Regions from separate parts of the Homo sapiens genome. Here regions 1, 2, 3, 5, 6 and 7 are each linked to region 4. The links come from fine-mapping of genetic effects on gene expression. A gene starts in region 4. Each other region holds a variant in brackets. All regions are shown on one strand. Distances are from middle to middle. Region 1 overlaps ABR (ABR activator of RhoGEF and GTPase). Region 2 overlaps ABR (ABR activator of RhoGEF and GTPase). Region 3 overlaps ABR (ABR activator of RhoGEF and GTPase). Region 4 holds the start of ABR (ABR activator of RhoGEF and GTPase). Region 5 overlaps ABR (ABR activator of RhoGEF and GTPase). Region 6 overlaps ABR (ABR activator of RhoGEF and GTPase). Region 7 overlaps ABR (ABR activator of RhoGEF and GTPase).

What was found. PIP is the estimated chance that this variant, and not a neighbour inherited with it, causes the effect.
Region 1: its variant is fine-mapped to the expression of ABR in whole blood (TOPMed, PIP above 0.99).
Region 2: its variant is fine-mapped to the expression of ABR in cerebellar hemisphere (GTEx, PIP above 0.99).
Region 3: its variant is fine-mapped to the expression of ABR in esophagus mucosa (GTEx, PIP above 0.99).
Region 5: its variant is fine-mapped to the expression of ABR in whole blood (INTERVAL, PIP above 0.99).
Region 6: its variant is fine-mapped to the expression of ABR in blood mononuclear cells (TOPMed, PIP above 0.99). The same link has a PIP of 0.9 or more in whole blood.
Region 7: its variant is fine-mapped to the expression of ABR in whole blood (INTERVAL, PIP above 0.99).

The regions. Positions count from the first base shown.
Region 1 is chr17:1,107,383-1,111,382 of GRCh38, forward strand. The region is part of intron 2 of ABR (ABR activator of RhoGEF and GTPase); the gene reads right to left. Among named protein-coding and RNA genes, the nearest start is that of ABR, 71 kb to the right of the region's middle. The variant A/G (reference allele first, on the strand shown) is at 2,176.
Region 2 is chr17:1,043,748-1,047,747 of GRCh38, forward strand. All of the region lies in intron 16 of ABR (ABR activator of RhoGEF and GTPase), which reads right to left. Among named protein-coding and RNA genes, the nearest start is that of MIR3183, 23 kb to the left of the region's middle. The variant G/A (reference allele first, on the strand shown) is at 2,273.
Region 3 is chr17:1,087,937-1,091,936 of GRCh38, forward strand. ABR (ABR activator of RhoGEF and GTPase) reads right to left here. Exons shown (of 23, transcript NM_021962.5): 4 at 3,729-3,914. Among named protein-coding and RNA genes, the nearest start is that of MIR3183, 67 kb to the left of the region's middle. The variant C/T (reference allele first, on the strand shown) is at 1,794.
Region 4 is chr17:1,177,746-1,181,745 of GRCh38, forward strand. It overlaps ABR (ABR activator of RhoGEF and GTPase), which reads right to left and starts at 2,236. Exons shown (of 23, transcript NM_021962.5): 1 at 1,922-2,236. The coding sequence starts at 1,982. ABR-AS1 (ABR antisense RNA 1) reads left to right here and starts at 3,882. Exons shown (of 3, transcript NR_187271.1): 1 at 3,882-4,000. RefSeq lists an enhancer at 2,277-3,043.
Region 5 is chr17:1,100,063-1,104,062 of GRCh38, forward strand. ABR (ABR activator of RhoGEF and GTPase) reads right to left here. Exons shown (of 23, transcript NM_021962.5): 3 at 575-673. Among named protein-coding and RNA genes, the nearest start is that of ABR, 78 kb to the right of the region's middle. The variant T/C (reference allele first, on the strand shown) is at 1,922.
Region 6 is chr17:1,113,144-1,117,143 of GRCh38, forward strand. The region is part of intron 2 of ABR (ABR activator of RhoGEF and GTPase); the gene reads right to left. Among named protein-coding and RNA genes, the nearest start is that of ABR, 65 kb to the right of the region's middle. RefSeq lists an enhancer at 1,586-2,229. The variant G/A (reference allele first, on the strand shown) is at 2,109.
Region 7 is chr17:1,052,031-1,056,030 of GRCh38, forward strand. The region is part of intron 14 of ABR (ABR activator of RhoGEF and GTPase); the gene reads right to left. Among named protein-coding and RNA genes, the nearest start is that of MIR3183, 31 kb to the left of the region's middle. The variant G/A (reference allele first, on the strand shown) is at 1,900.

The sequences.
Region 1 (4,000 bases), 70 kb before region 4:
CAGTGTTCAGCAATGAATATGACATGGTCCTGGTCCTCCAGGAGAATGGGATATAATTGCGGAGGCAAATGTCTAGAGTTCTGAGCATCTGAGCAGAATGAAATACGGGCTTAGCTGAGGCATACGCCGGGGTCCAGCAGAAGGGGAGGTCCAGGAGGCAGCCTCTGAGTGGGCCCACATCTGTGCTGGGGGCTTCCCAGAGGAGGCCCATGAGGGCCACACACCTCCCATCCCAGCATTGCTACTCCCAGCCTGACTCCTGGCTCAGGAGCAGACTTTCCCACCCTGTTCCTAGTGGGGAGGCTGGTCAGACCCTAAGTGCAGAGGCCTCCCTGAGCCCACGGGGAGACGTGACTTACCCCCACGGCCCTACGCCAGCACCAGATCAGAGAAGACAGGGTGGGGTGCCAGCCACTGCCAGCCTCCCTACAGCTCCACTCCCCACCCAGGCCTGCAGCCACCGCTCCACCCATACTCACACATCAGCCATCTCCCGTGGTTCTGCATCTATTTTTACCTCCATTGGCTCCTCCTCAGAGCCACACTGTAGAGTGGGTGGGGCAGGACTGTGATCCCCATCTTCTGTGAGGGGCAGGGAGGCCCAGAGAGGTTCAGGGACAGCCTCCCGTCCCCAGCAATGCTGGCTGCACATGCCTTCTAGGCCCCGCCGATGGGCACTCGGTTAGGCAGCCTCGCCTAGCAGTCTGCAAACTCCCCGAAACGCATCCTCACTGGGCCTCCCTTCTCGACACAGAACCAGAGAGCAGCTGAGCAAAAGGCTGAGGTGGAAGCTCTGAGAGGTGTGTCCAGGAGAGAAAAAGGAAGACCGCTGTGGTGTGCCGGGCCAGACTCACAGAGCCGGCGTGGTTCCGGGGCCGCCCCGCTCCTCAAGGGATTCTGGCCACCACTGCCCTCCAGTTCCACCGGGAGCCAACCTCTCCTACAGGACGGGTCACTGCTGCAGAGAACGCCGTCAGCCCCAGAGCGGGTGGGCCAGGGCCCAGCAGATGCTCCCTGCCTGTCCCGCCTCGGGAAGGGCACCTGCCCACCTGGCTGCAGCCTCCAAGCCAGCTGTTCCCTCCCCCCTTCAGCTGACCCAGTGCTTTTCCTTCAAGGAAGCTCAGTGACCTCTGGCTCTTGCCCTTTGCAAACACCCTCTTGCCTCAGCTCGGAGACACCAAGTCCCTGTCTCCTGGCTGGGAAGAGGGTGGCCCCTCTCTTGCGGTTGCCGTGGAAACGGGGGATTCCTGCCCACCCGCTCCAGGGAGGCGGCGAGGCTCGGGCTGACAGGCGCGCCAGGTGACTCCTGGCACAGCCGCCGGAGCCCTGAGCTGGGCTGGCCTGGAGGGGGCGGCCACCACTGCCCCGAGGACACCGGTCGGGGAGGCAGGCCCGCCCCTCTCCCCCGGGAACAGCTGCCGGGGCCGGGACCCTCCGCCGAGGGCTTCCACCCGGCCGCGCGCTCTGCGCCCGCATCAGCCATTTCTCCCGCGCACCTTCGGCAGCGCCGGCCCGGCCCCCCCCAGCGCCCAGGGCGTGTCACGCTCCCACCTTCACAGCCACCAGGAAGGGGGACCCTGAGCCGGGGCTGGTCGGGGTTCCCAGCTCGCACTCCTCCAGGAGAAACACATCTTCGTCCTCCAGAACCTTGTCCAGCAAGCCTATCGCCTCCTCTTCCTCCTCCATGGCAGCCGGAGCCCGCGGAGGGCAGACAGGAAGCGGGGTCCACGCAGCGGCGGCGGGAGGAGGGAGGAGGGAGGAGGCGGGCGGGAGGGGGGGCAGGTCTACACCCGCGCGCCCGGCCTGGGGCTCCCGACCCGGGACTGCATCCCGGACCTAGTCCAGCCCGCTCCGCCGCCGCCGCCGCCGCCTCGCGCGTCCTCGCCCGGCGAAAGGGGGAGCAAGGCCCGGGCAGCCCCTGACGCCGTGCCCGGCCCGTGGCGGAGGCGAACCCGCCGCACAGCAGCCCAGCGCCCTCCTCCGTGTCCCGCCCGGCCCCGCAGGGCCCGCCCTTCCCGGGCTCCGGGGCTCGGGCTCGCGCTCGCTCCGAACACACAGGAAACGCGCGTCGCGAGGTGGAGCCGCCCGTCCTCTGGGGTTGCGGGGCCGCGGCTGGCGGAGGCTTCTGCGGCGGAGGAGGAGCGAGGAGGCCGCGGCCGGGCCGGGGTGGGGTGG[A/G]GCGGGGAGGCCGCTTCCCAGACGCATCTTCATTCCCCGCGCGCGGCCGAGCCAGGAGCCCGGCGAGCAGGGGCGACCCCCAGAGCCACCCCGGAGTCCCCATGCGCCGGAGCCCCCTTCCGGAGGGGAGGCCCCGGCCCGCCCAGAAGCCACAGCCGCGTCCCGCCGCCGCTGGAGGAGTCAGGCTTTGCAACAGACAGGCCTGACCTGCCCCCAGGCAGGAGCGCGGCGCCACCACTGTCCTGCACAGGAGCGGTGGGCGTCCCACTCACAGGGACCAGGATCCCCCTCCTCCAAGCAGCCCCCCTCCTCCGAGCAGTCCCCCCACTCACGGACGCTACTGACACCAGCACCCCCACCTCCTCTGAGCAGCCCCCCCACTCACAGACCAGCCCCCCTACTCACAGGCGCTGCAGAGACCAGGACCCCCACCTCCTCTGAGCAGCCTCCCACCTACTCACAGGCACTGCTGAGACCAGCACCCCCACCTCCTCCAAGCAGCCCCCCCAGCCACCCCACCGCAGGGAGCCATCCTGCAAGGGGAGTGCACACAGAACCCAGGACAGGCACCATCTCCGGCCCTGCCCACTCCCAGCCAGCTTCCCCTGGCTTCTCCAATGGTTGCAGAACCCCCAACTGTGCAGGGAGTGAGGCCACATTCTGGTCCCCCTGGCCCTAGTTCCCAGATGCACATACACCTCCTTCCATGGGAGGAGGAGTCCAGAGGAGGCCCTGGGAAAAGCTCTTTTACAACCCAACGATGGAGCAAAGGTTGCAAACGGCACCCATGAGGGTGCGGGTGAGGCCTGCGGGTGAGGCCAGCCGGTGAAGCGAGCCAGGTAGGGCAGGGTGAAACCACCACTCACTCCAGCCGATGGCTGCTGGAGGAAACGCAAGCTCATGGCTGCCTGATCTCTGTTCAAAATAAGCTAAAATCTGGCTTATTAACAGGAATGCTCCTGATTTTAAAACGATGGCAAATAATTAACATTTTAAAACAACATGGTGCCGTCTAAATGAACCACACCTGTGGCCCGAGTTCAGGCCACAGCCCCCCACTCCCCCCAGAATTCTTCAGAAGCTCTGGGCTCTAGGTGGGGCTCATGCAATTCCATTGGCAGCAGAGAAGCTGCCCTCCCTGGAGAGAGGCTCCATCCTGTTGCAGAGCTGAAATACAGAGCAGGGGATTGCGGGGTGAGCCCTTGAGGGGCCCCAGGGCTAACAGCCTTTGATCAGGGAACTGTGCCACCAGGGTTCAACAGAGGCACACCCCCACCCCACCCATCTCCTTCCAGCCCCTGGTTTTCCCCTGTCCCTGCCTGGGTGGGTTATAAATAGCCAGGGCGCATCTGAAGGGCCCTTTCAGCCACAATTCCTCATTTGGTGCGGGCGGGTGAGGCTGTGGCGAGGGCTTGGGAACGACCAGGCCTGGCATTCCCCAGGGCACAAGTATGCCAGCTCAGGGCCTGGTACCACGGGTTCTTCTGTCTCCCGCCCGGCGGGCTCCAAGTGCATGGCATGGGCTGCCCACATGAGTCAGACCTGCAGGTGACACGAAGAAGGGCCTAAAACCCCACAGGCCCCTGCTGTGTTCCTTCCTCCACTCAAGAGGACATGAGGTGCCCTTGGAAGTCTGCCAGGATATCCTCGTCCCCGTTCCCCACACCTCTACACGGCATGGTGAGACTGACGCCCACTTCTTCCCAAAATCCCTGAACCCCACACAAGTGACTCCCTGAGTATCCAGGGCCTCTCTACTCCACCCTGTCCCCGGTGGCTGGAAATTCCAGTGAGTAATGAGAGTGCCCCTCCATCAGACACAGAC
Region 2 (4,000 bases), 130 kb before region 4:
CCACCACAGGGTCTTCAGCGCTGCTGTGCCCAGGGAGGGGCTGCCCTGGCAGGCACGTGGGGAAGTGGAGCTGCCTCCCAGGCACAGGGAGCAGAGGTGGACTGTGGGGTGGGGGCTGTCCCCAGCCTGCGGTGAGCGAGGGAATGACGCAGGGCCGGGGGGCGGGCAGGGGGTGCAGAGGGCCCCTCAGGTTTAAGTAGCTTCTTGGTCTCAGGCCCTTCTCCAGTCTGGGGACGCTGGCAGAAACTGAGCTGTGGGGCCCCAAGGGAAAGCGCTCTCCTCAGGCCCAGCCCGCCAAGAAGGGCCGGACCCTGGGAATATGCTAATCAGCTAGCGGGTAGGTTGCAGCTGGAGCGGCAAGGCTGGAAATAGAGTAGGATAAACACAGTGGAGTCCCCTGGGACCAGGAGCCAGGGCAGACTACGCCGGGGGCAGGGGCAAGAGCCGGTGGAGGGGGGGCTCCCAGCTAAGCGGACCTGGATGGGGTCCCTGAGTCTGGGGCCCTTGTTCACCCACTAACAAGCTCTGTGACCGCGGCTGCCTCGCTCACCCTTGCTGGTGTCCATTTCCTTCTCTCCGGAAAACAGGATTGGATTAAACGCCCTCTAAGATTTATTCCAGGCCGGGTGCCGTGGCTCAGGCCTGTAATCCCAGCACTTTGGGAGGCTGAGGTGGACAGATCACCTGAGCTCAGGAGTTTGAGACCAGCCTGGTCAACATGGTGAAACCCTGTCTCTACTACTACTAATAAAAATCAGCTGGGCATGGTGGTGGGCGCCTGTAATCCCAGCTACTCGGGAGGCTGGGACAGGAGAATGGCGTGAACCTGGGAGGCAGAGGTTGCAGTGAGCCAAGATTGCGCCATTGCACTCCAGCCTGGGCAGCACAGCAAGACCCCATCTCAAAAAAAAAAAAAATACCTCTTCCGGCCAAACCCCCAGGAATCCCCTCCTTTTATTCATTCCTTCTACTGGCCTTGCTTGCAGCTCCCCGCCACCCCTGCTGAGGCTCCTGACTTTCCTGGGACCCTCCCTTCACATTCGTGCCTCCCTGCCAGGCGGGTCTGTCCTCCAGAACTCCCACCCTACTCCCTTCTGCGGAAGCGGAGCCTGCGCACCTTGCTGGAATAACACAGAGCCTTAGCATAGCAATTGCGCTGGCCGCTCTATACCAAGATTTCTACAAAGAATATAAAGTACTTTTAACAAAGTATCCAAAAAGGTGCTTAAGAAGACTCCATACAGCTCTAGAGAAAAGGAGGTTTATAATAATCCATGAAAACAGAAAAACAGACAAAACAGGCCCTGATTAAATCTACATAAAAATGTGTATACCTCAAGAAGGGAAAAGGCACAGAATAAACTGGCTGCTTCGGAGGAGCCGGAGGAAGGATGGTTTCTGATTAGGTTTCAAGTCTCTTTGCTTCTACTGCAATTTTCTTTCTCATACAAACATTGCTTTTGGAATTAAAAAACCCAGGGCTTCCAAATCGCTCTCGTTCCACCTCCTCCTTGAAGCCTCCCTAATTCCAGCCCATGGTGACCTTTCTGCCTCTGAATTCCTGCGGGACAATCTTCCATCTTCTTATAGCAGGACAATCTTCCATCTTCTTACAGCAGGACAATCTTCCGTCTTCTTACAGCAGGACAATCTTCCGTCTTCTTACAGCAGGACAATCTTCCGTCTTCTTACAGCAGGACAATCTTCCGTCTTCTTACAGCAGGACAATCTTCCGTCTTCTTATAGCAGGAGGCAGCAGGACATCTAGAAATGGGCTCTGCAGCCAGCTGCCCGCCCTGGCCCACTCCTGGGCACATGGCCTTGTCCGGGCTCCTTAGCCCCAGCTTCCTCATCTTTCTAGCTGTGATGATATTCCTCTCCCACAGGGTCCTGGGAAGATCTCCTGAGACAGCAGATGGAAGCATTTAGCACCGTGCTGGGCTCGTCCTGGGCTCGCTTATGTGTGTACGGCTATTGTGGCTGACATCTAGCATTCTTCTCACTGGAGAACATGGACCAATATACTCGTCTTTCCAATCTGACAGTGGGTCCCTGGAGGCCAGGACCCCCTCCTGGGCTGGGGACCTCACAGACGCATGCTAAGTACCCCTCCTGCTGTTTTCTTTTCTTTTTTTTCCCCAGACAGAATCTCATTCTGTCTTGTCCAGGCTGGAGTGCAATGGAGCAATCTCAGCTCACTACAACCTCCACCTCCCAGGTTCAAGTGATTCTCCTCCCTCAGCCTCCCAAGTAGCTGGGATTACAGGTGCCC[G/A]CCATCACGCCTGGCTAATTTTTGTTTTTTTAGTAGACACAGGGTTTCACCACGTTGACCAGGCTGGTTTCGAACTCCTGACCTCAGGTGATCCCCCCGCCCTGGCCTCCCGAAGTGCTGGGATTACAGGCACGCACGACCACCCCTGGCTAATTTTTATATTTCTAGTAGAGACGGGGTTTCGCCATGTTGGCCAGGCGAGTCTCAAACTCCCGACCTCCTAATCCGCCCGCCTCGGCCTCCCAAAGTGCTGGGATTACAGGCGTGGGCCCCACACCCAGCTAATTCTTGTATTTTTAGTAGAAACAGGGTTTCGCCATGTTGGCCAGGCGGGTCTTGAACTCCCGACCTTGTAATCCGCCCGCCTCGGCCTCCCAAAGTGCTGGGATTATGGGCGCGTGCCACCACGCCTGGCTAATTTTTGTATTTTTAGTAGGAAAGGGGTTTTGCCATGTTGGCCAGGCTGGTCTCGAACTCCTGACCTCGTGATCAGCCCACCTCGGCCTCCTGCTCTTTCCCGCACGTGCTCCTCTCCTTCCTCCCAGGGGCACCAGGCACAAGTGTCCCCTGCCCAGAGGACTCCAAGACAAAGGACGCTCACCTTATGCCATAAAGCAGCACCTCAGCTGCTTCTCCAGGCCATTAGCCATGCCACGGCCCTCTGTCCGGGCTGGGGGATTCGTTGACAAAGGCCTGAGACGTGGGGACATGGCACAGAGGAGGGAACATGGCCTTTCCCACATACCATACGCAGAGATGCCTTGGCCAAGGTACTTAACCTCAGTACCCCAGTGTCCTCATCTGTAAGATGGGGAGGAGGGACTGTCATTCTCCCTGGAGGATCACGACAAGGATCACACGAGGAGATGGCATTTGGGAAGCGGCCTCCAGGAGCACAAGTGCTGGACACACATTGGTGACGCATGCTGCCGTCTGTCTGTCACTAAATGCTTCCCCCACCCCACCCCGCCGCTGAGACTCCTGCCCCACTGCCCCATCAGGCGACCCAGAGTGGGGGCCTCATCACAGCAGCAAATGCCTGCGCTTAGGCCGTAGGGCCCCTTGCTTTCTCTGGATGGGCTGCTGGGAGGGGGCTTAGAGAGAAGTGGGGGCCTCAGAGACTGCCCTCCTCCTCCTGCCTTTCCTACAGGCCCCCTGAATATCCCCGAGGGCTGGGCCCTATCTCAAAGCCACCTCCGACTATGTCCTCAGCGCCTGCTGGCGGGCAGAAAGACTGCATTCCAGAGGCTAGTGCCAGCTCCCTTCCTTAGATGTGTGGCCGGAGTGAAGGCAGAGACAAGCTGTGGGGACAGACCGTTCCGTGGCTCCGTGGGGCCCGGGTTCGTGGGAACAGCTCCGTGTGGACTCGTCACCCAGCCTGGCCATCCACGGTGGCTCTGAGGGCAGTCACGGGGCGAGACTTTCTAAGCCACAGCCCGCCCCTGGGGCATGCCTCCCCCACCAAAGGCAGGCTGGTGAGATGGTTCTGCAGCGGAGGGCCAGGGCCGGGCCTTGGCATGCTGAGTGCTGGGGGACTTCAAAGGCCTGCAGGGGACTCTGGCTCTGAACTGTCCGCTCACAGGCCCAGGTCAGCTGGCAGCAGGAAGGTTTATGTTTCTTTTAATATCAACTCCCAGGCATTTAACATTCCTCGAAGCTTAAACACAGAAACATTTTCCTTACCAGACTCTGCCTTCTGCTTTGCCAAACATAACCTGGCTTCCTCCC
Region 3 (4,000 bases), 90 kb before region 4:
AGGTTGCCTGGAAACAGCAGCCTGGCACTGGAGTGATCTCATAAAACAAACAGCAGAGACGCTAATTCCCTTCTCTCAGTAACGAATAATCAAATACCCAGAGTCTTCGGCTGAAAATAAACCACCTCCGGATGCCAGACCTGACCCGGCTCCCCCCGGGCCCTCCCAAATCTGCAGCCCCAGGGGCCTCAGGCATCGGTTCACGATGCTGGGGAGGGAAAGTGGTGGGTAGCAGATTCACGGCCAGGCCTGTGGAGCCAAGACCAGAACCGGGGACAGCCAGGTCCAAGTGACAAAGATAAACTGTGACAGCGTTTCCAGCAACCCTAGGTTTGCTCTCCTCTACCCTCCTGAGGGATGAGGAGAGGATGCCCCCCAGGCCACTCAGCTCAGGTGAGCAGGCAGTGATGACAGGTGTTCACCATCCCTGAACCGGAGGGAGCAGGGGGGGGTATGCTAGAACCAGAGTGTGGCATTCCCTTGGAAGGATACCTTCCAGGGTGCCTCTTCCCAATTTAATAATAATAATAATAATAATAATAATAATAATAATAATAATGGCACTGATGATAATGACCAGTTATTGAGTACTTATTAATTTATGATGTTCCAGGCCCTGTTCCAAGCACTTTTTCTTTTACTTTATTGTATTCTATTTCTTTTTTTGAGACAGAGTCTTGCTCTTGTCGCCCAGGCTGGAGTGGAGTGGCACGATCTCGGCTCACTACAACCTCTGCCTCCCGAGTTCAAGCGATTCTCCCACCTCAGCCTCCCGAGTAGTAGCTGGGATCACAGGTGCGTGTTATCATGCCCGGCTAATTTTTGTATTTTTAGTAGAAACGGGGTTTCACCATGTTGGCCAAGCTGGTCTTGAACTCCTGACCTCAGGTGATCCGCCCACCTTGGCCTCCCAAAGTGTTGCTGGGATTATAAGCGTGAGCCACTGTGCCCAGCCATTTTTTTTTTTTTTTTTTTTTGAGACAGAGTCTCAGTCTGTCATCCAGGCTGGAGTGCAATGGTGTGGTTTTGGCTCACTGCAACCTCTGCCTCCCAGGTTCAAGCGATTCTCCCGCCTCAGCCCCCTGAGTAGCTGGGACTACAGGTGCATTCCACCACACCCTGCTAATTTTTTTGTATTTTTAGTAGAGATGGGGTTCCACCATGTAGGCCAGGCTGGTCTCGAACTCCTGACCTCACGATCCACCCACCCCGGCCTCCCAAAGTGCTGGGATTACAGGCGTGAGCCACCACGCTCAGTCAGGCCTATTCTATTTCTTTGTAGAGATAGGGTCTTGCTATGTTGCCCAGGCTGGTCTTGAACTCTAAGCCTCAAGTGATCTTCCAGCCTCAGCCTCCCAAAGTGCTGGGATTACAGGCGTCAGCCACCACACTCAGCCCCATGCAGTTTTCAGATATTAACTCCTCAAAATCACCCAATGAGGTAAATACTGTTACTATCCTGTTTTTTACAGATGAGGAAGCTGATTCAGAGCGGTTGGGTAAGTTGCCCAGTTGCAGGTTTAATCTGGCAGCGCTGGGATTCAAGCCCACTTTGTGACACGGCTCTAGAAGCTGTGCTGGAGAAACAGGACTCTCAGGACAGAAATCTCAGGCCCTGCAACGTCTCCCTCCATGCCCTTCCGAGTTCTCCCGAGGCCCAGTGGTCAAGGTCACGGTGCATTCACTCATTCAAGCAGTGACCACTGGGCTGGTTCTGGGAGTCTAAGAAGAAGGAAATGCAGGCCGGGCGCGGTGGCTCACGCCTGTAATCCCAGCACTTCGGGAGGCCGAGG[C/T]GGGCGGATCACCTGAGGTCAGGAGTTCGAGACCAGCCTGGCCGACATGGCGAAACCCCGTCTCTACTAAAAATACAAAAATTAGCCGGGTGTGATGGTGGGCGCCTGTAATCCCAGCTACTCGGGATGCTGAGGCAGGAGAATCACTTGAACCCGCGAGGAGGAGGTTGCAGTGAGCCGAGATCACGCCACTGCACTCCAGCCTGGGCGACAGGAGTGAGACTCCGTCTCAACAAAAAAAGGAAATGCAGTCCGTCCTCCTGGAACTTGTGGTTTGGGGGAGTCAGGCAGTTACTAGTGCTCACTACGAGGACTGGCACAAGGCCTGCATTTGGCGACTTGGAAAGCCTTCTTGGAGGAGGTCCCTTCTAAGCTGGGAACTGACCAGGGGAGGCCAGACGAGAGGGGGAAGGACGTTTCAGGCACACGGGGCCTCAAGTACCAAGAGTTAAGAAAGTGCCTGCCCTGGGAACTGAGAACAGAAAGTCCAGTGTCAGGAGCACAGAGGTGCGGGGAGGAAGCTGCCAAGGCTGGGGCTGGACACGGGTCAGTGTGCAAAGGGTCTCTCGAGCCATTCCTCGGAGCCTGACCTTCATCCGAGGGCCGTGGGGATCCGCTGAAGGGGCCGTCGAGGTTTCAGTGACTCTCTCCCCTCTAAGGAGAGGTGGGGGTGGGAGGTGAGTGGGCCTGGAGGCAGGAGCCACACAGGAGGATACGCAGCTGTCCAGGTGAGGGCCATGGGTGGCCAAGAAGAGGAAAAGGCGGCTGTGAGCAACGGCCAAAAAGTGGAGTCCACAGGACAGGTGGGGGAGGGGGTGCAGCCAGAAAGAGTCTGAAGCACTCGGTGAGGTAAAGACAGGAAGCGGAGCAGGTGACGCCGGAGGCAGGGAGCTCAGCTCTGAACACACTCAGCTAGAGGTCCTAGGAGTGTCCAGGCAGGAGAGGGAGAGTCTTCTCCAGCGTGAGAAAGGCAGAGCCCTGTCCATTCAGCCAGAACACGGCAGGGGAGGGGAGGAGGCCTCCAGCCTCTCACACCCAGAGAACAGGGCAGGAAGGAGGAGAAGGTCCTCTGGCCACTCACACCCAGAGAAGAACCGCGGCCTGGACTCCCAGTCTCCCTCTTGCCTGCTGGGCGGTCAGACGTTACGTAGCAGAGGTGGGGAGGGAGCTCCATGAGTCTGACCTGGGGGTCCTCCAGGGGACACAGCCAGAGATGGGGCAGAGCTGGGGGAGAGGGTGTCACAGAAGCACAGGGAACCAGAAGACTTCTGTGAACGTTTCCCAACACGAGGTCTGCATGTTAACCCACCCACTCCTGCCGCTCCCGACCCTGCAGTGGTGAGCAGGGCTGGGCTTCAGTGCTTCCTGCTCTTGGGACCTCAGGAGAGGATCATCGGCCAGTGTGCCCAACTGCTTCCTTTTACAGACCCGAGGTCTCAGGGGAGCAGTCCTCATGCCCCTAACCCGGCATGTGCCCCTCTGTTCACTGAGGGACAGGAGACTGAAGCCCAGCAAGAAGCCTTCATTCCAGGGCTGGTTCCTCAGAGCACCCTCCGGGAGAGAGAGGGAGCACCGTCCGGGAAAGACGGAGCACCCTCCGGGAGGGAGAAGGAGCACCCTCCGGGAGAGAGATGGTGCTCCCACAGAAGTGCCCATCCACACAGCCCATCTCCACCACCCCTGGAAGGACCTATCCACACAGCCTGTCTCCACCACCCCAGAAGCTCCCAGGGCTGCACCAGGGGAGGCCTAGAGTCAAGGCCCCGGCCCCAGGCACCCCATAACACACAGGCCCAGGCCTTCCTCCCGGACTCGGAGAGGTCTCAGGCCTTCAAGGAGTCCGAGAGGGCTGCCCGGTCCTCTCCTGAGGCTCCTGCAACACTATGGGCTCCACTGAGGCCCTGCGTGAGGACCCTCCATCCCTGGCAGACTCACCAGCTTCTGGAAGAGGTGGCCCATGGTGACCTGGCTGTCCCACTGTTGCACCTTGGGGCACAGGTTGTCATAGAACTCCTTGTGGATCTCATAGATGTCCTGGATCTTGTAGAAGATGGTCTCGATCTGCTGGATGGTGAGCACGGGCTGGGAGGTGGTGGCGGTGGCCTTCAGGGGTTTCATGGGCTGGGAGAAACAGAGGAAGAAAGAGCAGAGGTCGGGGGTAAACAAACCAGAGTGTCGGCAGGCCCCGGGGCCGATCGTTAGCCCTT
Region 4 (4,000 bases):
GTGAATCTGAGGCATTGTTATGACGGCTGTTTGCAAGCACACAGCTAAGAGAGGGCCACTAATCCTGCCTCCGGGTCAGGAGCTGATCTGCATCTGCGCTCCGAACAGATGTGTGCCCCCATTCATGCAGACGCACGTGCACGCACATGCCACACAGCCATGGGCCCTGACCTTCACCCAACGACGCTGGCCTCTGCAGGGGAAGGAGCAGATGGAGCGGCGGCACCTGGCACAGGACCTATGCCCAGGGGATCCGGCTTTGCCCCTTTGATGTTGAGAAACCAAAGCAGAATGAACCATCACAAGGACAGCTCCTGGGGGGAGGAGAGGAAGGAACATGGATGGAGGAGGAGGCGGGTGGAGAAGAAGATACAGGGAATGACCTGGACCCAAGGGGATGCTGAGGTCAGAGGTTGAATGTTGGGTACCACACAGCCTCCAGAGTAAGGCTTTGGGGCTCAAGGCATCACCCTTCTCTACTCCCCCCACCCCCCCCATATGACTTATCAAGGAACTCTAGCTGGGATGACCCTTACAAATGCCCTTGTTGGCTCACGCCTGTAATCCCAGCACTTTGGGAGGCTGAGGCAGGTGGATCACCTGAGGTCAGGAGTTTGAGACCAGCCTGGCCTCATGGTGAAACCCCATCTCTACTAAAAATACAAAAAATTAGCCGAGAGTGGTGGTGGGTACCTGTAATCCCAGCTACTCAGGAGGCTGAGGCGGGAGAATCACTTGAACCCGGGAGGCAGAGGTTGCAATGAGCGGAGATTGCGCCACTGCACTCCAGCCTGGGCGACAGAGCCGAGACTCCGTCTCAAAAAAAAAAAAAAAGAAAGAAAACGCTCCTGTTCCATGGCATCCAGTGCCTAGAATCAGGCTGAACCAGGCTCCACGTGGCCCCACGTGCCTCCCCCAACTCCTGCCTGGGAGATGTGCTGAGAGAGTGGGAGGGTCCCACTCACGTGGGCCAGGAAGGGCGAAATCCACTATGTAAGCCCAGGAGGACCCTCTTCCTAATCCCTGAGAGCTTTCGGGAAAGGTGTCTCAGGGAAGGGTGGGGAGAAGGGGCGGTGCCTTTCTAGCAACGGAGCAGGAGCAAGGTGCGGTGGTGGGGGCGGGGGGCGGCTCTCGGTTCGCCCCAAGCCCCCCCACACCATTACCCGTGATCAGTTACGCATCCCCCGGGGCCATGCAAGAGCAATCACATGATCCAGAGAGATTTGGGAGCGAGGGGGTGGAGAACTCGAGAAGGTTTGTTTTTTTTTTCTTCTGAGGGTGGTGGTGATGATGAGGGTGGGGGTGGTGATGAGGCTGGCAGGAAAGATTGCTGAGCCCGGGATTTTCAGCTCCCGCATCCAAACGGCCCCCGCGGATATCTGCACCCCCCGTCTCCCCTCCCACCCGATCCCACCCCAGCACCGAACCCCTGGGCCCTGAACCACACATGACCCGGTGCCCCTGGGGTGGCAAACTCGGGTGCCAACGACTGCTCCCAAAACGGCCTTTCGGCTTCAGCCTGGACAGAGAAGCTGCCGGTCCAGGGGCGGGGGCAGCACCCAGAAGGGCCTCCCTCCCCTGAGGCTCGCGGAGGCCGGGTTCACAACAGGTGGGAGGGGGGACGCAGCTCTCGGCTCGGTCCGCCCACGGTCCCCGCCCCCGGACCGCAGGAATCCTCTCTGGGGACCCCCCGCCCGCGCCCCCCAGACCAGCCCGGCTCCTGGGTCCCGACCCCGATCCCGATTCCCAACCCGACCCCGATCCGGACCCCGATCTCGCCCCCGCCCGCGCTCCCCGGACCAGCCCGGTGCCTGGGTCCCGATCCCGATCTTGGGGTCCCGATCCCGATCCTGGGGTCCCGATCTCCATCCTGGGGTCCCGATCCCGATCCTGGGGTCCCGCCCCCGCCCGGCACACGTACTGCTGTAGAGGGTGTCGATCCAGGACAGGCGCGGCAGGCCCCGGTGGCTGAGCGGCTCCATCCCGCGGCGGCGGCTCGGTCAGATCCGAAACCCGACCCTCATCGCGCAACAAAGGAGGGAGAGCGGGCGGGAGCCGGGGGAGGCCGAAGTTGCGAGCGCGGAGGGGCGAGGAGGCCGGGAACCAGGTCCCCGGGAGGAGCGCGGGGCGGCCGGGGCAGGGGCGAGGGCGGGGCGGGAGCCCCCAAAACCCTCCCGAACCCTCCCGGCCCCAGCGGCCGCGCCGAGCCCAGCTGCGGATCCCGGAACCGATGAGCAACTTCGCGGGGGGCGGGGCGGGGGTGGGGCTTCGTGGTGGGGCGGGGCTTTGGTGCGGGGGCGGGGCTTTGGTGCGGGGGCGGGGCGGGGAGGGACCAATCGGCTCGAGGCTCCGCCCTCCGCAGGACGCCCCCGGCCGGGCTAAGGGGGCAGCGGGGCTCCGGCGCTGGGCGAGGAGGGGCCGCGGGGGTCTCGGGGGGTCTCCAGGCGGCGGCGCAGACCCAGGTCCCCCTCGTCCCCCCCGCGCCGGGCTCAGCAGGATCCTGGCGATCCGCAAACCAGGTGCCGTGGGGGGCCCGGGAGCCCACAGGGGTGACATCACCTCCCGCCCGGGATCTCCAAGCGCGGCTTCGCGGGCGGGAGCGGCGGCCGGGCCCCTCCCCAGCCAGACCCGCTGCGGGACCCACGGGGTGAACGTCCTGCGCGCCGCGGGACGCGCCTCTCTCCTCCCGAACCTTCCCCCGCTCGTCCCTTTCCACACCCCTGACCTCTGAGCGCGGCCGTTCCCGCCACACATGGAGGGGGGCGGGTGGAGACCCGGGAGGACCGAAGTCACGGGGGCTGTGGGGCCAGGACAGTCCCACATGTGCCCCTCCTGGGCGGAGGACAAACTGGAGCCAGGAGAAGCCCCAAGGGCTCCACGCGTTCCCCTCCAGGACCCCTCCTGGGGACCCCGAGCCGCGGCCTGGAAAGCCCATCGTGTTTGCATCATCACCTAGAAATGGTGGGAAGTCGGGTCAAGAGGCCTGAGAAATGACCGTTTAGAGACGAAATTCCCTCTAAGGAAGACCCCCTCGCCCAAGGGCAGTGAAGAGATTGGGGGCCCCATGCCTGTCTCCTGTGGGCTGATTCTGTGGGAGCCATGGCAGCTTCCCCACAGACCTCTTTGGGCCAAGCGACCCTGGAGCAGGGAAGGACAGGAGGGGAGTCAGGCCAGGGGGGTCCAGGGCAGTGGGGCTGAAGCCCCTTCCTGAACCCAGGGAAAGGGAAGCAGTGGGGCCCACCCAGGGGGCCCGGTACCCCAGATAGTGACATTTCAGATACCGGAGCTGTCTCCACCCCACCCCATCCCCAGGCAGCTTAAGGGGAAAACTTCTGGGAGCCCAGCCCTACAGAGGCCTACCAGGAAGGTTAAGTCAGCCTGGCCTTTGCCGGGGGCAGTGTGGTCGGCACCCGCAGAACGCTGGAGGGGTGTGGGGGTCGGTCCTCATCACTCCAAACAGACACACACACATCTAGTTCTTAAGGGGAGAAGCAGCTCCTCCCCCAGGATGCTGAGAGGAAGCCCCATAAGCTGCTTGGGCAGAGGCCTCTGCAGCTGCCCCAGGGGAGATGGGGGTCACCCACTCATCACAGGCTGGGGAGCCCCTGGGAGACGCACAGGATGATGCTCTGGGTGGGGAAGCCTCTACAGGTGGCTGCAGCAGAAGTGGTTTTCAATATTATTAGCCCGTCCCTGCGTCCCCAGGGCTCCCTCCGCCCCAATCCTCCTGGCTCAGGCACCAGCGCTGTCTCTTGCCGCCCCTCCCTGCAGCTGTCACCCTCCCACCGTCCCTGACTAGCACACAGGATTGGGAGGGCCAAGCAGGCACCTGGAGCTTGGCAGGGAGGGGGCGTGCATCTCCAATGAGACGCTCCAGAAATAGAGCTTCGGCATGGGAAGGGAACGAGCAGGCTCTCGGAGGACCGCGAGGCCGGAGGAGCCATGAGGGGCCAAGGGCATCTCTTCTTCCCACCTGGAACTCTCGGAAGACAGCCCAGGG
Region 5 (4,000 bases), 78 kb before region 4:
TTGCAGTGAGCCGAGATCGCACCACTGCACTCCAGCCTGGGTGACAAGAGCAAAGCTCCGTCTTAAAAAAAAAAAAAAAAAAAAAAAGAACACAGCCTCCCACCTCATATTTCCTGACACGGGGCCTCAGGATGGCACTAACGGTTCCCTCACCCAGGGAGGTAGAAGGACTTGGACACAAGACGGCAGAGACTTCTTAACTGGATTGATTGGGAATGACTGCCCAGAGCACAGCGTGGAGAAGGCGCTCGGCCCCCGCCCAGGCAGGCAGAGCACCATGATGGGTTCACGATGCCCTATGCCAGGGTCGTGGGTGACAGGTGTGTTTGCCATCTCTAAGCCGGGTGTGCTTCTCCTGCCTTTTGAGAGCTGGAGCTGAGAGGCACAGGCCCTTTCTGGCAATGACCCGGGCTGCCCGATGCCCAGCCAGAAGCAGACCAGCTGCAGACTCTGTCCACAGGGAGGGACGGGTACGGTCCCCTTTCCTCTCCAACTCCAAAAGCAGCTTCAGAGCATGACATCACCCAACACGGGCGGGGGGACCGGAAGGCCCCAGAGCAGGGACTGTACTCACCAGCAACAGGGCTTCCAGCTGGTTAATGTAGATCTCTTCGCTGGCCAAGAACCCCGAGAGAACCAGCTTCCTCATCTCCAGGCCTTTCCCTGCTTCCACCTGCACAAACGCAAAGCACAGCCAACAGCTCATGAGCAAGGAGGCCAAAACCCTGCGTGGACGGTCTGCTTCCCTGCCCTTCCCCCCCGACCTTTATTTTTTTTTTGAGACGAAGTCTCGCTCTGTCACCTAGGCTGAAGTAAAGTGGCACAATCTCGGCTCACTGCAACCTCCGCCTCCCGGGTTCCAGTGATTCCCCTGCCTCAGCCTCCCGAGTAGCTGGGATTACAGGCACCTGCCACCATGCCCAGATAATTTTTGTATTTTTAGTAGAGATGGGGTTTCACCATGTTGGCCAGGCTGATATAGAACTCCTGACCTCAGGTGATCCACCCACCTCAGCCTCCCAAAGTGCTGGGATTACAGGTGTGAGCCACCATGCCCAGCCATTATGCCAGACTAATTTTTTTTGTATTTTTAGTAGAGATGGGGTTTCACCATGTTGGCCAGGCTGGTATAGAACTCCTGACCTCAGGTGATCCGTCCGCCTCAGCCTCCCAAAGTGCTGGGATTACAGGCGTGAGCCACCGCGCCCGGCCCCCCTTTCCCCTTTCCTTTTATTTTAAGCGACACTTTCATAGGGGATAAAAGTCAGATATTATTATAAAAAATATACAAAACATGCAGAAATATAAAAGGAAAAGACAATCACCCATATTCCTCCTGTAACATCTCGTTTTGCTTCCCTCAATCTATTTTCCACCTGGGTTCTCGAACCGACTTTTCCTCCCTCTCTTCCTCTCCTCCTGCCTGTCCCACACACCAGAGCTGGATTCAACTCCTAAGAGTGCCACCTTGCCCGATGCTTGCCAAGGACCGAGTATGAATACCGCAAAACGCGAGTACTTGGGGATTCCACTGGGCTATGTGTCCATTTATTTATTCATTCAATAAATATTTACTGAATGTCCACCAGGCCCTATAGATACCATGGGAAACAGACAGTGGCCCCTGTTCTCAAGTGGCTTAGACTCTAGTGGGAAAGACATTTATTTTTTCTTTTTTTTTTTTTTTTAGAGACGGAGTCTCGCTCTGTCGCCCAGGCTAGAGTGCAGTGGCGCGATCTCGGCTCACTGCAAGCTCCGCCTCCCGGGTTCACGCCATTCTCCTGCCTCAGCCTCCCGAGTAGCTGGGACTACAGGCTCCCGCCACCACGCCCAGCTAACTTTTTGTATTTTTAGTAGAGCCGGGATTTCACCGTGTTAGCCAGGATGGTCTCGATCTCCTGACCTCGTGATCCGCCCGCCT[T/C]GGCCTCCCAAAGTGCTGGGATTACAGGTGTGAGCCACCGCACCCTGCCGGAAAGACATTTAAAAAACAAGTAAAGATTCGGCCCTAGACTGGGACATGGGGCCCACCATATCCTTTATGAGCCACCTGCAGTGGCCCGGATGCCCGTCCCTACCCTTCCAGTCTTTCCCACAGCCAGGACATCGCTCAGTCTCCCCCACACGCAGGAGAACCAGCCTCCTCATCTTCAAAGGTCTCTAGCTTTCGGTTCGTTCTTTACCTGCTGCCTAAAATGCCATCTTTCCCTGAGGCATCGTGGCCACAGAAGGGGAGTGAGAGGGCCGGGGAGACAGGGTAGTGGTGAGGGACTGCTTGGAAGATGCTACACTGGTAGGTTTGAAGACAGAGGATGGGGCCACGAGCTAAGGAATGCAGAGAGCCTTTGGAAGCTGGAAATGGCAATAAAATGAACTCACTCCCCTAGAGCAGGGGCTTCCGATCTTTTGGCTCCCCTGAGCCACACTGGAAGAAGACGACTGTCTTGGGCCACACATAAAATACAATAACACTAACGACAGCAGATGAACTAAAAGAAAAATATATAATGTTTTAAGAGTTTACAAATTTGTGTCGGGCCACATTCAAAGCAGTCCTGGGCCGTATGGCCGCAGGCTGGAAAAGCTTGCCCTAGAGCTTCCAGAAGCAATGCAGCCCTGGAGATCCTTTTTATTTTAATTAATCTATTTATTTATGTATTTACTTATTGAGACAAAGTCTCCCTCTGTCGCCCAGGGCTGGAGTGCAATGGCATGATCTCAGCTCACTGCAACCTCTGCCTCCCAGGTTCAAGCGATTCTCCTGCCTCAGCCTCCCGAGTACCTGGGATTACAGGCGTCCACCATCACACCCACTAATTTTTGTATTTTTAGTAGAGATGGGGTTTCACCATGTTGGCCAGGCTCGTCTCAAACTCCTGACCTCAGGTGATGCGCCCGCCTCGGCCTCCCAAAGTGCTGGGATTACAGGTGTGAGCCATGGAGCCGGGCCGAGATCCTTTTTAGATTTCTGTATAAGAGAATAAATTTGTGTGGTTTTAAGCCCTTAAGTTTGTGGCGATTTGTTTCAGCAGCATTAGAAAAGCAAGACAGACCCCACGCTTCAGGCAAGGGCAATAGTTACTTATTGGCGGCTTCACAAATTCCAGGAACTGAGCTTAGCTATCTTTGTGGTTCAATTCACCGGAGTCTCAAAACCTGGCAGGTGTTATCATCTTCCTGAGGCACCGAGAGTCGGGACTGCCAGAGGCCTGCACAGCCTCCAGCACACGTAGCCCCGGGGGACAAGATCAGAGCCTGGAACAGCCCCCAGCTCCAGCCCCTCCAGGTCAGACCCTCAGGGGTCTTCCTGCTGCTTCCCAGCCTTGACAAATGGGAACTCATCCCCTGTGCTGGGGGCTAGCACTCCCTCCTGTTCCCTGCCAACCAAGGTTTTGCCTGAGGGTTTAGCAAATGCCACACCGTGAGCTGTAACTGTAGAGCTGGTTGGACTAGGATGGGGGGAAGAAAGGGATTTGCAGCCCCAGCCACAAACAAGCTTCATCCCCCCTGGCACGAGCATAGACCCTGGAAGCCCTGTAATCGCCCATTTCTGCAAGATCCTCCCCTCAAGACTTCCATTCATAGTCCACTCTTGAAAGGCTGGTTCTGATGGGAAGACAACTCAGGAAGACCCTCCCTCAAGAGGCAACAGTCAGCCCCAAGAGTCCTGCTCTGGGCCCCGTTCACGCTGCAGTTTTGGCTGAGATTGGAGCAAAGGCGTTGGAGAGCGTACGGATGGGAAATTAGCCTCGGTGCACTTGGCTAACAGGAGACCCGTTGCTCAGTCACCACCAAAGGAAGGCCTGTTCCATCTCCCATCTTTTCCAGCTTTCCTCAGACTCCACAATTCCCAGTTTAGAGCCATGAGGAAATTCACATTGTTTCTTCAGTCTTTGCAGGGCGTCTCTTGTCTCATCAAAAACCAGGCTCACCACTCACTCACCCATTCCCACCGGGAGCCAGGCACTGGGAATACGAAGGTGAAGGAGAGGTGCCCACGTGC
Region 6 (4,000 bases), 65 kb before region 4:
GATTGACCTGGTGACTGACTCCCAAGGCAGTGTCAAGGGAGGGGCAAGGCCGTACTGGGGAGGGGAGCAGTGTCAGAACTCTGCAGCTGAGGTGCCACTTTTCTGGAAGGGATAACATGGAAACACCTATTGCGATTTTTTTTTTTTTTTTTTTTTTTTTTGAGACGGAGTCTCGCTCTGTCACCCAGGCTGGAGTGCAGTGGCATGATCTCAGCTCACTGCAACCTCCGCCTCCTCGGTTCAACCCATTCTTTCGCCTCAGCCTCCCAAGTAGCTGGGATTACAGGAACCCGCCACCAGGCCCGGCTAATTTTTGTATTTTTAGTAGAGATGGGGTTTCATCATGTTGGCCAGGCTGGTCTCGAACCCCTGACCTCAGGTGATCCACCCGCCTCGGCCTCCCAAAGGGCTGGGATTACAGGTGTGAGACACGGCACCTGGCCCACTGCTTATTTTTAGATTCGACTTTAAACGTCACCTCCTCCAGGGAGCCTCCCGTGACTCCCCGTTGGCTGCGTCAGATGTGCCCGCTGGTGCCCTCAGAGCCCACTCTACGTTCCCAATCGTGGCACTTCTATTTTAACTTCTTTATTTTCCTGTTACATCACTAACAATTCTAACTCTGTAGACACACATAATAAAGAAAGAGAAAGTCTCCTCTGGTTCCCTCTGACAGAGGGAGCCTCTAAGAGTTAGTTATACATTTTTCCTTATTTGTGTCCACGAATAAACTATACATATAGGCCGGGTGCAGTGGCTTACGCCTGAAATCCCAACAGTTCGGGAGGCCGAGGCAGGAGGATCACTCAAGCCCAGGAGTTTGAGACCAGCTGGGCAACATGGCAAGACCTCATCTCTATAAAAATTTTAAAAAATAATTAGCTGAGTGTGGTGGCATGCTCTTGTGGTCCCGGCTTCTTGGGAGGCTGAGGCAGGAGGATTGCTTGGGTCAGGATATTGAGGCTGCAATGAACTGTGTTTGTGCTACTGTGTTCCAGACTGGGCCACAGAGAAAGACCCTGTCTCAAAAAAAAAAAAAAAATTAGGCTGGGCGCAGTGGCTCACGCCTTTAATCCCGCACTTTGGGAGGCCGAGGCAGGTAGATCACTTGAGTTCAGGAGTTCGTGACCAGCCTGGTCTACGTGGTAAAACCCTGTCTCTACTAAAAATACAAAAATTAACCAGGAGGGGTGGCACAGGCCTGTAATCCCAGCTACTCTGGAGGATGAGGCACAAGAATTCCTTGAATCCGGGAGGCAGTGGTTGCAGTGAGCTGAGATCACACCACTGCACTCTAGTCTGGGCGACAGAGCAAGACTCTGTCTCAAAAAAAAAAAAAAAAATTATGGCCGGGCGCAGTGGCTCACACCTGTAATCCCAGCACTTTGGGAGGCTGAGGCAGGCAGATCACCTGAGGTCAGGAGTTTGAGACCATCCTGGCTAACACGGTGAAACCCCGTCTCTACTAAAAATACAAAAATTAGCTAGGCGTGGTGGTGGACGCCTGTAGTCCCAGCTACTCAGGAGGCTGAGGCAGGAGAATCGCTTGAACCCAGGAGGCGGAGGTTGCAGTGAGCCGAGATCGCGCCACTGCACTCCAGCCTGGGTGACAGAGAGAGACTCCGTCTCAAAAAAAAAAAGCAGTGGTTAGAGATGCTGGTGGGGCTGGGGAACAGACAGGAGAGAGACTATGTGAGGCACAATGACATGAGTTTAGTCTGGCTGGTTCATGCATTCATTCAGCTAATATTTACTGAGCACCTACTGTGTGCCAGGCACAGTTCTCGGCACCAGAGACTGCAATGAGCAAGTTTTGTTACAAAACCGACAAAATCTCTCTCTCGTGAGAGTTCACAATTCTAGCACGGAGTTGGTCCTGAGGCCACAGAGGTAGGCAGGGGGTCCAGGGGTCAGGTCACACAAGGCCTTGACAGCTGTGCAAAGGGAAGGGGGGCCCCATAGGCGAAGGGAAGGTGCTGGAGGATTTCAGGACAGGTGTGACAGGACATTCATCCTGCATCCCTCCTGCTGACATCAGATGACTCTTTCTAAAACACTGCTCACTCTATGCCCAGCAGGAAGCCACCAAGCCAGCCCAAACAAGAGCC[G/A]TGGGGCCCCAGCTGATGACTCACCCATCTCACTGTTGACAGTAACCTCTCAAAGGGCCTGGCACGTTCTCACTTCCAGGCCTTTAACAACGGCAGGTCCTCGGCTTGAAGCACTTTCTCCCGCCTCTTGGCTTCTCCCTGGCTCTCCCAGCTTTCCTGGCAGAAACTCAAGCCCCACCTCCAGACTGTATGAAGCTCAGTAGCTCTTCAGCCAATGGGAACTGACACCAAAGGGCAAGTGCCAGGGCAGTTGCAGCCACTAACTGCAGCCACAGATGGGACTGGATTCGTCACCTTCCAGATCACCTTGCTCCTCCCTCTGCCTCCTCTCTGTTCTAGTACAGGTCACTCCAAAATCATATACATAGTTCAACTACATAAAGCTAATGTTGGCCAGATGCAGTGGCTCACGCCTGTAATCCCAGCACTTTGGGAGGCCGAGGCGGGCAGATCACCTGAGGTCAGGAGATCAAGACCAGCCTGGCCAACGTGGTGAAACCCCGTCTCTACTAAAAATACAAAAAATTAGCCAGGCGTACTGGCGGGTGCCTGTAATCCCCGCTACTAGGGAGGCTGAGGCAGAAGAATCACTTGAACCCCGGGAGGCGGAAGCTGCAGTGAGCCGAGATCACACCACTGCACTCCAGCCTGGGTGACAGAAGGAGACTCTGTCTCAAAAAAATAAAATACATAGGCTGGGCGAGGTGGCTCACGCCTGTAATCCCAGCACTTTGGGAGGCCGAGGCGGGCGGATCACCTGAGGTTGGGAGTTCAAGACCAGCCTGGCCAACATGATGAAACCCCATCTCTACTAAAAATACAAAATTAGCCGGATGTGGTGGCCTGTAATCCCAGCTACTTGGGAGGCTGAGGCAGGAGAATCACTTGAACCCAGGAGGCGGAGGCTGCAATGAGCCGAGATTGCGCCACTGGACTCCAGCCTGGGTGACAGAGGGAGACGCCATCTCAAATAAATAAATTACATAAAATAAAATAAAGCTAATGTTGAGGAGAAGCCGGTACACAACACTGTTTATACAGTGAAACAAATAAACTAAAACAGAAAGAAAACTCCCCTGCACTCTGGATGTGAGCCCCAGCTCTGCCTCTTGCCAACTGTGTGACCTGGGCATGTCATCTAGTCTCCCTGTGCCTCCGTTTCCTCATCTATAGAATGGGGGTAATTACGGCATCAACTCTAGGGCTGCTAGCTAGCCAGAAGACGGAGATCCCAGACAGGGCGTGAGAGCTGTGGGATGAGCCAGGCCAGCCAGGTGTGGTTCATCAGGGAAGATTAACAGTATGCAGAGGTGAGCAAGATCCCAGCCAGGTGTGAATGTAGGAGGGCCAGAGAGGACGGGAGCCAGCGATGACGGGACCCAGGGTCACAACCAAGGCACTAGTCTACCTACTTCCGACTTACCTCCTTCCCAACTGGGACAAGCCCAGGAGCCACCCTGAGCCTCAGTGTCTTCATCTACTAAACGGGGGCAGCCCCATGGCTGGAGGACTTGGGTGGCAGGGCAGCCCCTGGGCTCCTAGCACAGCACCTGGCACACGGGAGGGTCCAGCTCGTGTCCTTCTCTTTGCAGCAGGGACCCAAGATCCAGGAAGGGGAGAAATGCAGGGGCCGGCTGCTGGGGGGCGGAGGCTGAAACTCGAGGAGTCCCTGAACCACACAACCCAGGTCCGGAGCAGTCAGGAGGGAGTGGAGCAGGCACCATCTCAGGAGTTCCTGGCTGCCATGCCGCCTCTTCACGCACCTACCAGCAACCTCGAATCCCAAGCCCTAAGCCTTCTGAAGAGACCAAGAAAGGGAAGAAGAGGCTGCAGTTCCTCCCAGCGTTATCCCTGAGCCTGAGTTCCTCCCAGCGTTATCCCTGAGCCTGAGT
Region 7 (4,000 bases), 130 kb before region 4:
ACCACTGCACTCCAGCCTGGGCGACCAAGTGACTCTTTCTCAAAAAAAAAAAAACCAAAAAAACCAGCTTTCCTGCAGAAAGGACAGTGCAGCTACCCCAAGAAGCCTCCAGCTGGAGCAACAGAAAGAAGACCCAGGTGGGCCTCAGAACACACAGAACGGGGCTGGGGATTTGCAGGTGAACAACACAGAGGCCCTGAGCACCCCAGCCTGGGCCAGACCAGGGAGTGGGCCTGTGTGTTTGAGACGGGCCATGAAGTGCTGTCATCATGGATTGATCTCGGTGTGAGCCCCTCCTCGAGGGGCTGGGGAGGGCTCACAGGGTCAGAGGGAGGGTTCCGGAAGGGGCTGGGGGAGGGCTCACAGGGTCAGAGGGAGGGTTCCGGAAGGGGCTGGGGGAGGGTTCACAGGGTCAGAGGGAGGGTTCCGGAAGGGGCTGGGGGAGGGCTCACAGGGTCAGAGGGAGGGTTCCGGAAGGGGCTGGGGGAGGGTTCACAGGGTCAGAGGGAGGGTGCCGGAAGGGGCTGGGGGAGGGGTCACAGGGTCAGAGGGAGGGTTCCGGAAGGGGCTGGGGGAGGGGTCACAGGGTCAGAGGGAGGGTTCCGGAAGGGGCTGGGGGAGGGGTCACAGGGTCAGAGGGAGGGTTCCGGAAGGGGCTGGGGGAGGGTTCACAGGGTCAGAGGGAGGGTTCCGGAAGGGGCTGGGGGACGGCTCACAGGGTCAGAGGGAGGGTTCCGGAAGGGGCTGGGGGAGGGTTCACAGGGTCAGAGGGAGGGTTCCGGAAGGGGCTGGGGGAGGGTTCACAGGGTCAGAGGGAGGGTTCCGGAAGGGGCTGGGGGAGGGGTCACAGGGTCAGAGGGAGGGTTCAGGAAGGGGCTGGGGGAGGGCTCACAGGGTCAGAGGGAGGGTTCCGGAAGGGGCTGGGGGAGGGGTCACAGGGTCAGAGCGAGGGTTCCGGAAGGGGCTGGGGGAGGGCTCACAGGGTCAGAGGGAGGGTTCCGGAAGGGGCTGGGGGAGGGTTCACAGGGTCAGAGGGAGGGTTCCGGAAGGGGCTGGGGGAGGGGTCACAGGGTCAGAGGGAGGGTTCCGGAAGGGGCTGGGGGAGGGGTCACAGGGTCAGAGGGAGGGTTCCGGAAGGGGCTGGGGGAGGGGTCACAGGGTCAGAGGGAGGGTTCCGGAAGGGGCTGGGGGAGGGCTCACAGGGTCAGAGGGAGGGTTCCGGAAGGGGCTGGGGGAGGGTTCACAGGGTCAGAGGGAGGGTTCCGGAAGGGGCTGGGGGAGGGTTCACAGGGTCAGAGGGAGGGTTCGAGAAGGGGCTGGGGGAGGGCTCACAGGGTCAGAGGGAGGGTTCCGGAACGGGCTGGGGGAGGGTTCACAGGGTCAGAGGGAGGGTTCCGGAAGGAGCTGGGGACGGCTCACAGGGTCAGAGCGAGGGTTCCGGAGTCAGACCATCTGGGTCCACACCCCAGCTCTGCACAGATCACCTCCCTTCTCTCCCCAGGTTCCTGTCTGCACAGCAGGAAAAGTCATGGTGCCTACACCCTGGGCCTGCCTGTCCAGAGGTCCTGAGTTTACCACGGCTGAAGACACAGGGCCTCACCTCTGAGTGAGAACAGACATATGAGTGGGTCAGGGGTGGCGGCGGCGAAGGGAGTGAGGATAATCTGGGGGTAAAGAGAGATTTTGGAGCAGCTCAGCCGGCTCTGACACCCGCCCAGGCTGGGAGGCCACGGGTCGGCTCCCTGAGGCGAGGACCTCCCGGCCAACGGGAAGCAGGAGAGGGAGGGGCGGCATCTGGGGACATGGAGTGGTGGCGCCTGGTCCAGACATGGGTGGGACAGTGCTTCAGAGCTCACTAGCCAGAAGCTCCTCAGCGGCAGCCCCCAAGAAGGGAGGTCT[G/A]TGGGTCTGGAGAGAGTTCAGGAAGCTTCCACGGTAACAAGCAGCCTGAGGGACCGTGTGGTGTTCCCGGCCAGACATCGAGAAGTGCCCAAAAGGTTAGAGCTCCGGCTCTGGTGCCGGAAGACGTGGATTCTGCTGCACCACCTGCTACTGTGTGACTCCAGGAAGGAACCTTGAGCCCCTCCGAGCCTCGGCGTCCTCGTGTGTAAAACAGGGATGGTTTCCGTGACCTCGGCGGGATGCCGGAGGCTCAGAGCGGACCGTGAGACTGAGAGGCTCTGAACACGCCACAGGCTTTGCACATGTGAGTACGTCCACACGCCAGCCATGTTCTCACCTTCTCCAGGTGCACGGTAGGTGCTGTGTAAATTAACGACTTCATTCCACATTTCTGAGCTCCCATGCATCCCAGGGTAAAGGAGACCTGGTTCCCGCCCTCAGAGAACTCACAGTGGGAGACGCAAATTGTTAAGTGACAAAACAGCATGACAGGTGCCATAACCAGCTTGCCCTGAGCAGGATGGGGGCACAAGGAACCTCAGGGGATGGGGGCACAAGGAACCTCAAAGGGATGGGGATACAAGGAACCTCAGGGGATGGGGGCACAAAGAACCTGAGGGGACGGGGGCACAAAGAACCTGAGGGGATGGGGGCACAAGGAACCTGAGGGGATGGGGGCACAAGGAACCTCAGGGGATGTGGGCACAAGGAACCTCAGGGGATGGGGGCACAAGGAACCTGAGGGGATGGGGGCACAAGGAACCTCAGGGGATGGGGGCACAAGGAACCTGAGGGGATGGGGGCACAAGGAACCTGAGGGGATGTGGGCACAAAGAAGGGACAAAGAAGGGAGGCCAGTTTGCCCCCAGGAACTCAGGGAGGCTTCCTGGGAAAGGCTGCTCTAACGGCCCGGGGAGTCACCTCTGTGTGGGGCGCTGCAGGGAGGGGTGAGGGCAGACCCCACCTGCCAGTGAAGAGCAGGGAGTGGGAGGGGCAGGTGGAGAGGGAGAGAGTCAGGGTTTCTGATCCTCTGTGATGTTAAGTCTTTTCTCCTCTCTGTGACTCGGTTACCTCCTCTGGCAAATGGGTAGAAACTATTAGCTGTCTAACTGACTCACAGATTCCCGTGTGGATAACAGGTAGATAAAAAGCGCAACCAGGCCGGGCGCAGCAGCTCACGCCTGTAATCTCAGCACTTTGGGAGGCTGAGGTGGGAGGATGGCTTGAGCCCAGGAGTTCAAGACCAGCCTGGCCAACATGGGGAGAACCTGTCTCTAAAAAAAAATTTTTTAAAAATTAAAAAGTGCAATCCTACTTTGTGAGACACTAAAAACAGATTTAGTATGAGGAACCCACAAGGGGGAAGGGGAGAAAAAGCGATGAGCGTGGCAGCACACCAGCGTTGCACACACACGATCATATCCCAGCCTGCTCTCGGGTCAAAATTCACAAGCGTGACTGCCTTTTAGTGGAGGCCCAGAGAGGTTAAGAAACTTGCCCAAGGTCACACAGCTTGTCATGGGCAGATATGAAGTTGGAGTCCACGTGTTTGTCGCCCTCAGATATGAAGTTGGAGTCCACGTGTTTGTCGCACTCGGTTTCTTTTTTTTTTTTTTGAGACGGATTCTCGCTCTGTCGCCCAGGGTGGAGTGCAATGCCATGATCTCAGCTCACAGCAACCTCCGCCTCCCGGGTTCAAGGGATTCTCTGGCCTCAGCCTCCCAAGTAGCTGGGACTACAGGCGTCCACCGCCATGCCCACGCTAATTTTAGTATTTTTAGTAGAGACGGGGTTTCACCATGTTGGCCCGGATGGTCTCGAACTCCTGACCTCGTGATCCGCCCGCCTGGGCCTCCCAAAGTGCTGGGATTACAGGGGTGAGCCACCGCGCCCGGCCCCTAGGTTTCAGACAGCTTCAGGGAGGGCTTGAGAAAGAGGACTTTGGAGACAAAGGCCAGGGGTGACCTCCCTGCCAAGAGGAGCTGGTTTCTGGCCTCCAGGGGAATGCCCCATGTCTAAAGGCGTGCTGGCAGGGCCCCATCCTGGGCAGAGCAGTGCAGAATCCACAATGGCCCACCCAACCTCGTCCTGGCCAGGGCAC